Regions from separate parts of the Homo sapiens genome. Here region 2 is linked to region 1. The links come from fine-mapping of genetic effects on gene expression. A gene starts in region 1. The other region holds a variant in brackets. All regions are shown on one strand. Distances are from middle to middle. Region 1 holds the start of MPC1 (mitochondrial pyruvate carrier 1). Region 2 overlaps LOC107986669 (a long non-coding RNA gene).

Evidence for each region. PIP is the estimated chance that this variant, and not a neighbour inherited with it, causes the effect. A credible set is the group of variants that fine-mapping cannot tell apart.
Region 2: its variant is the best candidate, but not a certain one, in a credible set for the expression of MPC1 in whole blood (TOPMed, PIP 0.87).

What each region holds. Positions count from the first base shown.
Region 1 is chr6:166,380,997-166,384,996 of GRCh38, reverse strand. It overlaps MPC1 (mitochondrial pyruvate carrier 1), which reads left to right and starts at 2,057. Exons shown (of 5, transcript NM_016098.4): 1 at 2,057-2,191. The coding sequence starts at 2,121. It overlaps MPC1-DT (MPC1 divergent transcript), which reads right to left and starts at 1,819. Exons shown (of 1, transcript NR_189630.1): 1 at 1-1,819. RefSeq lists silencers at 1,385-2,124, 2,275-2,374 and an enhancer at 2,735-2,914.
Region 2 is chr6:166,311,521-166,315,977 of GRCh38, reverse strand. LOC107986669 (a long non-coding RNA gene) reads right to left here. Exons shown (of 3, transcript XR_001744464.2): 3 at 1-1,089. Among named protein-coding and RNA genes, the nearest start is that of PRR18, 5.4 kb to the right of the region's middle. The variant TA/A (reference allele first, on the strand shown) is at 2,789.

The DNA of each region.
Region 1 (4,000 bases):
ACAATGAAAAGTCAGTGTCACTCTTGGTCATCCTTAGAGGCAGCCACTACTAACATTTCTCCAGTATCTTTGCAAACATGAATGTATATATTTTCTTTGTCCCTATGCACAATGAGTAGCATACTTTATACACTATTCAGAACCTGGGTTTTTTTCTTGAAAATAAAAAAGATATTTCATATCAGCACATAAAGAATTCCTTTATTCCTAATGGCTGTATACTAATCCACTAAACGGATGCACCATAATTTATTTAACTCTCTCCCTATGGGTAGATATGTAAACTCTAATCTTTCCATACTAAAAACAATGCTGTACACATGAAATTGCACAAACTGGCTTGTCTATCCTAGGAAATCTCTAGATGGGCTTGCTGGATCAAAGGGGATGTCCATTATTAACACTAATACACTGCGGGTCACTAATGTTGAGAATTCCTGTTCACCAAAGGCATTTCTTTTATTTTTTATTTTAGAGACAGGATCTCCCTCTGTTGCCCAGGCTGGAGTGCAATGGCACAATCTCGGATCACTACAACCTCCACCTCCCGGGTTCAACCGATTCTCACGCCTCAGCCTCCCGAGTAGCTGGGATCACAGGAGCGCATCACCACGCCTGGCTAATTTTTGTATTTTCAGTAGAGATGAGGTTTCACTATATTGGCCAGGCTGGTCTCAAACTCTTGACTTCAAGTGATCCACCTGCCTCAGCCTCCCAAAGTGCTGAGATTACAGGCGTGAGCCACCGCACCCGGCTACCAGAGGAATTTTGTTATATTTATTTGTTTTTTTTGGAGACAGGGTCTTGCTCTGTTGCCCAGGCTGGAATGCAATGGCGCAATCTTGGCTCATTGCAACTTCCGCCTCCCGGGTTCAAGCGATTCTTCTGTCTCAGCCTCCCAAGTAGCTGGGACTACAAGCACATGCCACCACGCCCAGCTAATTTTTTTATTTTTAGTAGAGAGGGGGTTTAACCGTATTGCCCAGGCTGGTCTCGAATTCCTGACCTCAGGTGATCCGCCCGCCTCGGCCTCCCAAAGTGCTGTGATTACAGGCGTCAGTCACCGCGCCCGGCCACCAGAGGCATTTTAAATGATCGTCCACATTAGAAACAAAACGAAACGAAACAACTTGGAAAAGTGAGCAAAAGCCTTCAATGTGTTCTTTTCTCTGCCTTTGTGATCCGAAAGTCGTGCTGCGGTTTATATACTCCTAGGCGAGGGTCGCGTGCTAATGATCCCTTTCTTTTCAATATGCACCCGCGGTGGGACTTACAGAACCTTTATTTTCAACACGTAAGCAGTCACGCTTCCTCGAGCCTAAGGCTTTGTGCTATTCTTAAATGCTTTCCTCCTCCGACGCTGCGGCTCCCTCCTGAGCCCGTAGCTGCAGCGCGTTGGTGAGGAGCGCCGGCCCTGGGTGCCGCCCGCCACCCTGGAGGGACCGGTCCGGGGGAAAGTGCTCGGGAGAAGCCAGGGGCCCCGGCTGCGGTCGCTGGCCCGGGGCTCTGCGCACTCCCCAGTGCCCGGAAACCGCAGGCTGGCCCAGCTTGCGGGCCGGGTCCGCCCACGTGGGTGTGGGAAGCGCAGGGGACGCGGGCCGCCCGGCCAAGGTGCCCTTGCCAGGAACCGGCGCAGACACAGGCCCTGGGCGGCGCGGGAACCCGGCCAGTCCCACCGCGCGCTGCGCCGCAGGGGCCCCACTGCAGGTCGCCCCAAGACCGCGCGACGCTCGGCAGGGCGCCCACAGTCCTGTGGGTCAGAGAAATGTCACCTCCACGTCCCCGCTGGCCGGGAGCCGCTGGAGCCTAGCAACCGCCTGCCAGCCCCGGCCCAGCCCCAGCCGTTTTACGGCAGCGGGCCCCGCCCCCGTGCGCCACCGAGGGCGGGAAGGAGGCGTGCGGCACGAGCCAGCCAGTCCGCGCCACCATCTCTGGCCCTGCGCCCTGTCATTGGCCGAGAGCCGGGCGGCGCGGCGCGGCCGTAAGGCGTGGCCGGGTGTCGTGAGGCGGGCCTTCGGGCTGGCTCGCCGTCGGCTGCCGGGGGGTTGGCCGGGGTGTCATTGGCTCTGGGAAGCGGCAGCAGAGGCAGGGACCACTCGGGGTCTGGTGTCGGCACAGCCATGGCGGGCGCGTTGGTGCGGAAAGCGGCGGACTATGTCCGAAGCAAGGATTTCCGGGACTACCTCATGAGGTGACGAGCGCCGCAGGCCGAACCCCGCAACCCGGAGGGGCTCCCGGGAGGCTGCGACCCGTGCAGTCCGCGACGAGGGCGGCCGCGAGGACGCGGTGGCCCCGGGCAGCGGGTGGGCCGGGGCCCAGGCGAGAGGGTGCGCTTGTCAGGGGGGCCCCACCCGGATCCCTCCCGGACCGCCACACCCCGAAGCGGACGGCGTAGAGAGCCGGTGACAGTGGGCGCCTTTCAGGGCGGGGGTGACAGTGGGCGCCCCTCAGGGCGGGGGTGACAGTGGGTGTCCTCTCCCGGCAGGGTGACAGTGGGCGCTCCTCAGGGCGGGGGTGACAGTGGGTGTCCTCTCCCGGCAGGGTGACAGTGGGCGCCCCTCAAGGCAGGGGTGACATTGAGTCCCCTTCAGGGAGTGGGTGACGGTGGGCGTCCCTCCTGGCCAAGGTGACACTGGGGACGCCTCTCCTGGTAGGCATAACAGTGGACGCCCTTCCCGGCCAGAGTGGCAGTGGGGACCTGGAGGGACGAAAGCGACGGCGCTCCTCAGGACAGGGTGACCATGGGGACGCCTCTCCCGGCAGGGGTGACAGTGGGCGCCCCTCAGGGCAGGGTGACCCGGCAGGGGTGACAGAGGCTCGTTCCTCTCCCATGGTTGGCAGTGGGCACGTCCCTCCGGGCCAGTTGACAGTGGCTCGCTCCTCCGGGCGGGAGTGGTTTCCTGGCCGGTTTCTACCAGATCCTCGGAGTGGGTCGCCGGTCACCTGCGGCCGTCCAGGTGTGCCAGAGGCGGCGACCTGGGTGTGGGGTGGGGAGACGCCAGCGGGAGGCGCTGCTGAGAGCGCGGCGCGGCGCTGTTGGAGCGGAGCTTCGGGTGCGCCCAGCGCGCTTCTGGGACAGCGGAAATAAAATGTGCTGGCCTTGGGTTCGCCTTTCGGTTTTCTCATTCTAAGGACTTTAAGCTTGGGAGGAAGTACAATTTAAGATGTTTTTATATACGAAATTCTGTCAACCAAAGTAAAGTGACGTGTCTCTAAGGTCATACTTTTTCTTCTTGTTCTATTTTCTGTTAACTCCTCCTTTCCAGTTAGAAACAAAGAGCATTCGCGGTTGGAAAGCCTGAAAATACACTTTCTATAATTTATTTGCACCTCTCATCTTGGGGCGCTTGCTTTTATTTCAAAATATTGAATATAACTTTGAAGCAGTTTTAGGTTATTTAGGAGTGTAATTTTAGTTAGTTTTTCAGTGTATGATTTTAAAACCTAGGTACGTGTACAGCTGCGGTTTTTTTTCGGTAGTTAATAGTGTGGTCAAGAGGTAAAGAGATGAAAGCTGAGGAGGAATAAATCCTGTTATAACCACACAAAAGGGATAGTATGAAGGCAACTTGATTTTAGCAATAAAAAAGTTTTAAATCCTGAATTTTATTGCAAATACTGTTTACTTCTACTTTTATAGAGCAGTAGGGTAGGAAAAATAATTCAGTCTGCCATATGGTAAACTTGTAAACAGAAGCTTCACTTCTGACTTTCAAAAAAAGACATTTCTATGCTTAAATAGAACTACTATTAATTAAGATGGGTGTTTAGCACTGTGGAGCACAGCAATGTATCAGATTAATGGTAGTAAAAATGTGAACAAGGTAGCAGTCTGAGGGTATGCTCTCAATCCTTGCTGTTAAGTTTCTCTACAGCTTTGAATATTACTTTAGCTTTTTACTAATGTGTTGGATACTGAGCCTTCCTAATAGGTACAGCTAAGGATAACATTGTGTGGTAAAATTAAAAATACAGTTATGACACCTAGCTATATAAAAAT
Region 2 (4,457 bases), 69 kb after region 1:
ACCCGGGGCTCTGTGAGGGTAATGGCATGGGCTGGTGCTTGCCCCAGTACCCTCAGTCCTGCTGCTGGATCATCTGGTGAATGGCTTCTGACTCAGAGGACCTTCGTCCCCCAGGGCAGTGGGCCTTCCAGTGATTCCCTTGACATAAGGGGCATGGATGAGGGGGCGGCTTGTTTCTATTGGGACAATCTTTTTTAACGTGTCCTTGTAGACCGCACCGGAAGAAAGCCCTATTAGGCATTCGATTTGTTCAGGTTTTCCTTTTCCAGAGCCTCCAAAGTCCGCTTGCCTGAGGGCCATGACTGAAACGGTGGCCTTTTTTTTTTTTAATCTCGTTTGTCCCATTCCGACTGCTCCTCCTGATCTCTATTATAAAAAACCGAGGTTGCCAAGTTCAATAGGGTGTCTTAAGTTTTGCTCCAGGCCTAAGGTGGACTTTTGAAGTTTGTTTTCTAATGTCTGCAGCTGACCGAGTGATAAACTTAATCTTTAAGATTAGTTGGCCTTCAATAGAGTCAGGTGACAGGGAGGTATGCTTCCTCAGTGCCTCCCTTAGTCTCTCCAGAAAGGCAGTAGGATTTTCTTCCTTTCCCTGTGTTACAGTGGACATCACTGAAAAATTCACAGGCTTCTTCCTGGTTTTCCTTAGTCCTTCCAGCACGCAAGTTAGTAAATGTCTGCAGCACCAATCTCCATGTTCTGATTCTGTGTCTCAATGAGGGTCTGCACTGGGAACTGCCTGCTGGCCTGTAGGGAATCGTTCTCTTTCCTCTGTTGTCATCCTATCATTGACCTGACTGAGATACCAGAGATCGCCAAGCTCTCGGGCTGCAGTTATGGTGGCACTTCTCTCATTTGGGGTTAGTGTCTGATTTAGCAGTAACATTGCATCTCTCCATGTCAGATCAAAGGATTGTCCTAATTCTTGTAAAACATCAATATAGTCATCAGGGTTATCTGAGAATGTACCTAGGTCTATTTTAATTTGTTTCAAGTCTGAGAGGGAAAAAGGTACATACACTCTGACTGGGCTGAATTCTCCAGAATACATCTTGGGGACATTTTTGCCTTGAGGGGAATGTTTCTCATCTGAAAAAAAAAAAAAAAAAATATATATATATATATATGGATGCCAGCACCCCTAGTCATTTTCCGATGAGCATTAGTCCTAGAGTGTCCGCTGTGGTCTTAATGCTTATTCCTTTCCAGGGTGCGTAACCACTCATGGACCTCTGCTTATCGGATTAGTTATGCTTACTGATGTAGCAGTCTTGCACCCCTTTTCCCACCTTTCTTGACCACCAAGAAAGCAGTCCGGGCTGCTGGATTCTAGTGGTCCTTTACCAGCATGCCCAACGTCGCTTTTGCGCTCAGGGGTGAGTCCCAGAGTTGGGCTGGGTTCCTGAGTATTTCATGACAACCCAGCTGCCCCATCAAGATGCAGTCCCATAAACAACAGTTCTTGCACAAATTCGTTTCAGAGAGGGTGTAGGTAACCTTTTGAGTCAGGATTGAGATAGAGTTTTTTGATTCTGTGAGTACTTTAAGGCTTGACTGAGTGCAAACAGCTCGCACGTTTGAGCAGACCAATTGTTAGGCAATTTTCCTAACTCTGCTTCTACAAGAGTTTCCCTATCAATTACTGAATACCAATTGTGGGCTTTTTTTTTCTCCCCTCAATCACCGGGGAGGAACCATCTATGGTCCTGTCCTGAAGGGATTTCCTCCTGGGTCTGGTTAGACCTTTGTATGGTAATTAAGATTTAAATTCCTCATTAGGAAACCTTCTGGGTTAAGGGAATTTTTAGTGGTTAACGTTAAATCACCTTTGTCTAACAGAATAGCCCTATACTTTTAGATTTTTGAGTTAGTAAGCTACCTTTTTTTTTTTTCTTTTACTTAGGATAGCTCTGAACTGGTGAGGTGTGCTCACAATGAGGTTTCCTCTAAAGGTTATTTTTCTACTTTCTTCTGCTAGCAAAGCTGCTGCTGCTACCGATGGAATGCATTTGGGCCATCCGCGGGTTACTGGGTTAAGGATTTTTGATAGAAAGGCTACTGGTTGTCAGCGGTCTCAATGCAGCACTTCTCACAACGTGTTCCCAGGACGCCTGGGGTCTCGGAGGCCTGTTAGGGTCTGTTTTCATAGTGATACTGAGCCAGCATCACTCTTTTCCTCTCTCCTGCGATCCCCAGCACACAGTGGCGTTACTGTGGTCCCGTGGTGCGTGATGGCACAGGACAGAACACAGTGCATGCGAGATCCTATGGCTTCTACTGAGCCCACCACTCATCTCTCATTTGTTTATTTTAGAAAATAGTTTTTAAAAATATATTAAAAATATGTTAACATAATGGGTTTATTGCTAACATGTAATGTATTTAAAGCTATTTAAATTTCTAATAAGGTTAACATAATAGGTAAAATCCACAAAACAGAAGCTCTTTGGGGTTCTCAGCCATCTGGTCTTGAGACCAAAGAAATTGGGACCCCCCCCCCCCGGCATGGAGGGAAGCGTGTGCTCTGGCGCCCCCTGCCTAGACAGGCTGCCCCTGGCCGCGTGCTAGTTGTGTGACTGCTTGGGTAAGCCTTGGTTTGTCATCTGTAAAATGCAAGTATTGCTAGTACTGCTCTCACAGGGCTTTCATGAGCTTTCAACGATGTAACTAATCCAGATAAAGTGGATTATTTAGTGCAGAATAGACATTGCCTGTTATCATCTTAATAATGGGGAAAAAGAAGTACTTTAAAATTGTTAGCATCCAACACATTTCCTAAGTGTTTTTT[TA/A]ATTCCCAAAGCCTTTCACAGTAACAGACCAGCGTTAGAAGAAATGTAGACATTTTTAAGTTATTGGCAAGTTTTCCAAGTAATAAAATTGGTTTTAAACTGGAATAAGCTTCTGTGTTAAAATTCAGGTTTGGTTTTAGTTCTAGATGTTTGATTGCTTACTGTTACATCATGTAAAATGATTTGAATGAAAGTATAGAAAGAAGTAGACCATAGGGGATAATGAGAAACAATGTATTGAAATAGTTCCCATTTTGAAGTTTTTCTGAATGTACATTTAAATATTATATAACTTAGTAAAAAAGAAGAAATTAAGTTAATGAGAAAAATGAAATGTTTTTCAAATAATGGCTAATTTCCTGGTGTTGTGATGTGATTACTGGCTCTAATTTTATTCACTGGTTACGAGGCAGGAGTGAGCAGTTGAGCAGCCAGCGCGCATCGTGTGGGAGCCCGGAATCCTTGGGATCATTTCTGTAGGGTCTGGGCAGTTGGGATGATCAGATCTGAGGCCCTTTACACAGCAGGGTCACCGAGCTGCAGCCTTGATAATTCTTCAGTCCACACAGTTCAAATCGGTGGAACAGCTGCCCTCTGTAATTGTAGTTGGGCCTGAATGTAAACTTCCTGGTGTTTTATTTTAGTGATTGAAATATTCTCTGTGCACATATTATTCACTGGAAATGTCTTAAAGGGTTGTTGTAATGGAAATTCTTTACTCTGATACACACTTTACTCTGACAGAATAGTGGGGCGGGTGGATAATCACCATTCCCACATGTGGACAATATTGTGTTATTGTTATATTTGAAATCTGAAAATCAAATTTAATTTAAAACATAAATGACGTAAAACATAAGTCAAAAATATGGACAGTTCCAAATACATAGGACCCCTAAGCAATGTGGGGGTTAGGGGTACCAGCCTCCCATAGGGTCAGAAATCCTTGTGTAACTTTTGACTCTGCAAAACATAACTACTAATAGCCTACTGTTGACCAGAAGTCTTATCGATAACTTAGTTGATTAACATATTTTGTATGTTAGCCGGGCGCAGTGGCTCACGCCTGCAATCCCAGCACTTTGGGAGGCTGAGGTGGGTGGATCACAAGGTCAGGAAATCGAGACCATCCTGGCTAACACGGTGAAACCCCGTCTCTACTAAAAGTACAAAAAATTAGCTGGGCGTGGTGGTGGGCGCCTATAGTCCCAGCTACTCAGGAGGCTGAGGCAGGAGAATGGTGTGAACCCGGGAGGCGGAGCTTGCAGTGAGCCGAGATCGCACCACTGCCCTCCAGCCTGGGCAACAGAGACCCTGTCTCAAAAAACAAAAACAAAAGCAAAAAAAAAAACACCATATTTTTTATGTTATATGTATTATATATATTATACAGTATTCTTAAAGTGAGCTGAAGAAAATGTTAAGACAATCATGAAGAAGAGAAAATACATTTACTATTCTTAAGTATTGAAGTGGATCATCATGAAGGTCTTCATCCTCATCACCATTACCTTGAGTAGGCTGAGGAGGAAGCGGAGGGGTTGGTCTTGCTGTCTCAGGAGTGGCAGAGGCAGAGGAAAATCCTCCTGTAAGTGGACCCTCGCAGTTCAAACCCATGGTGTTCAAGGGTAAACTGTATTTGGTTTTGGTTAGTTGACCTTTTAAATC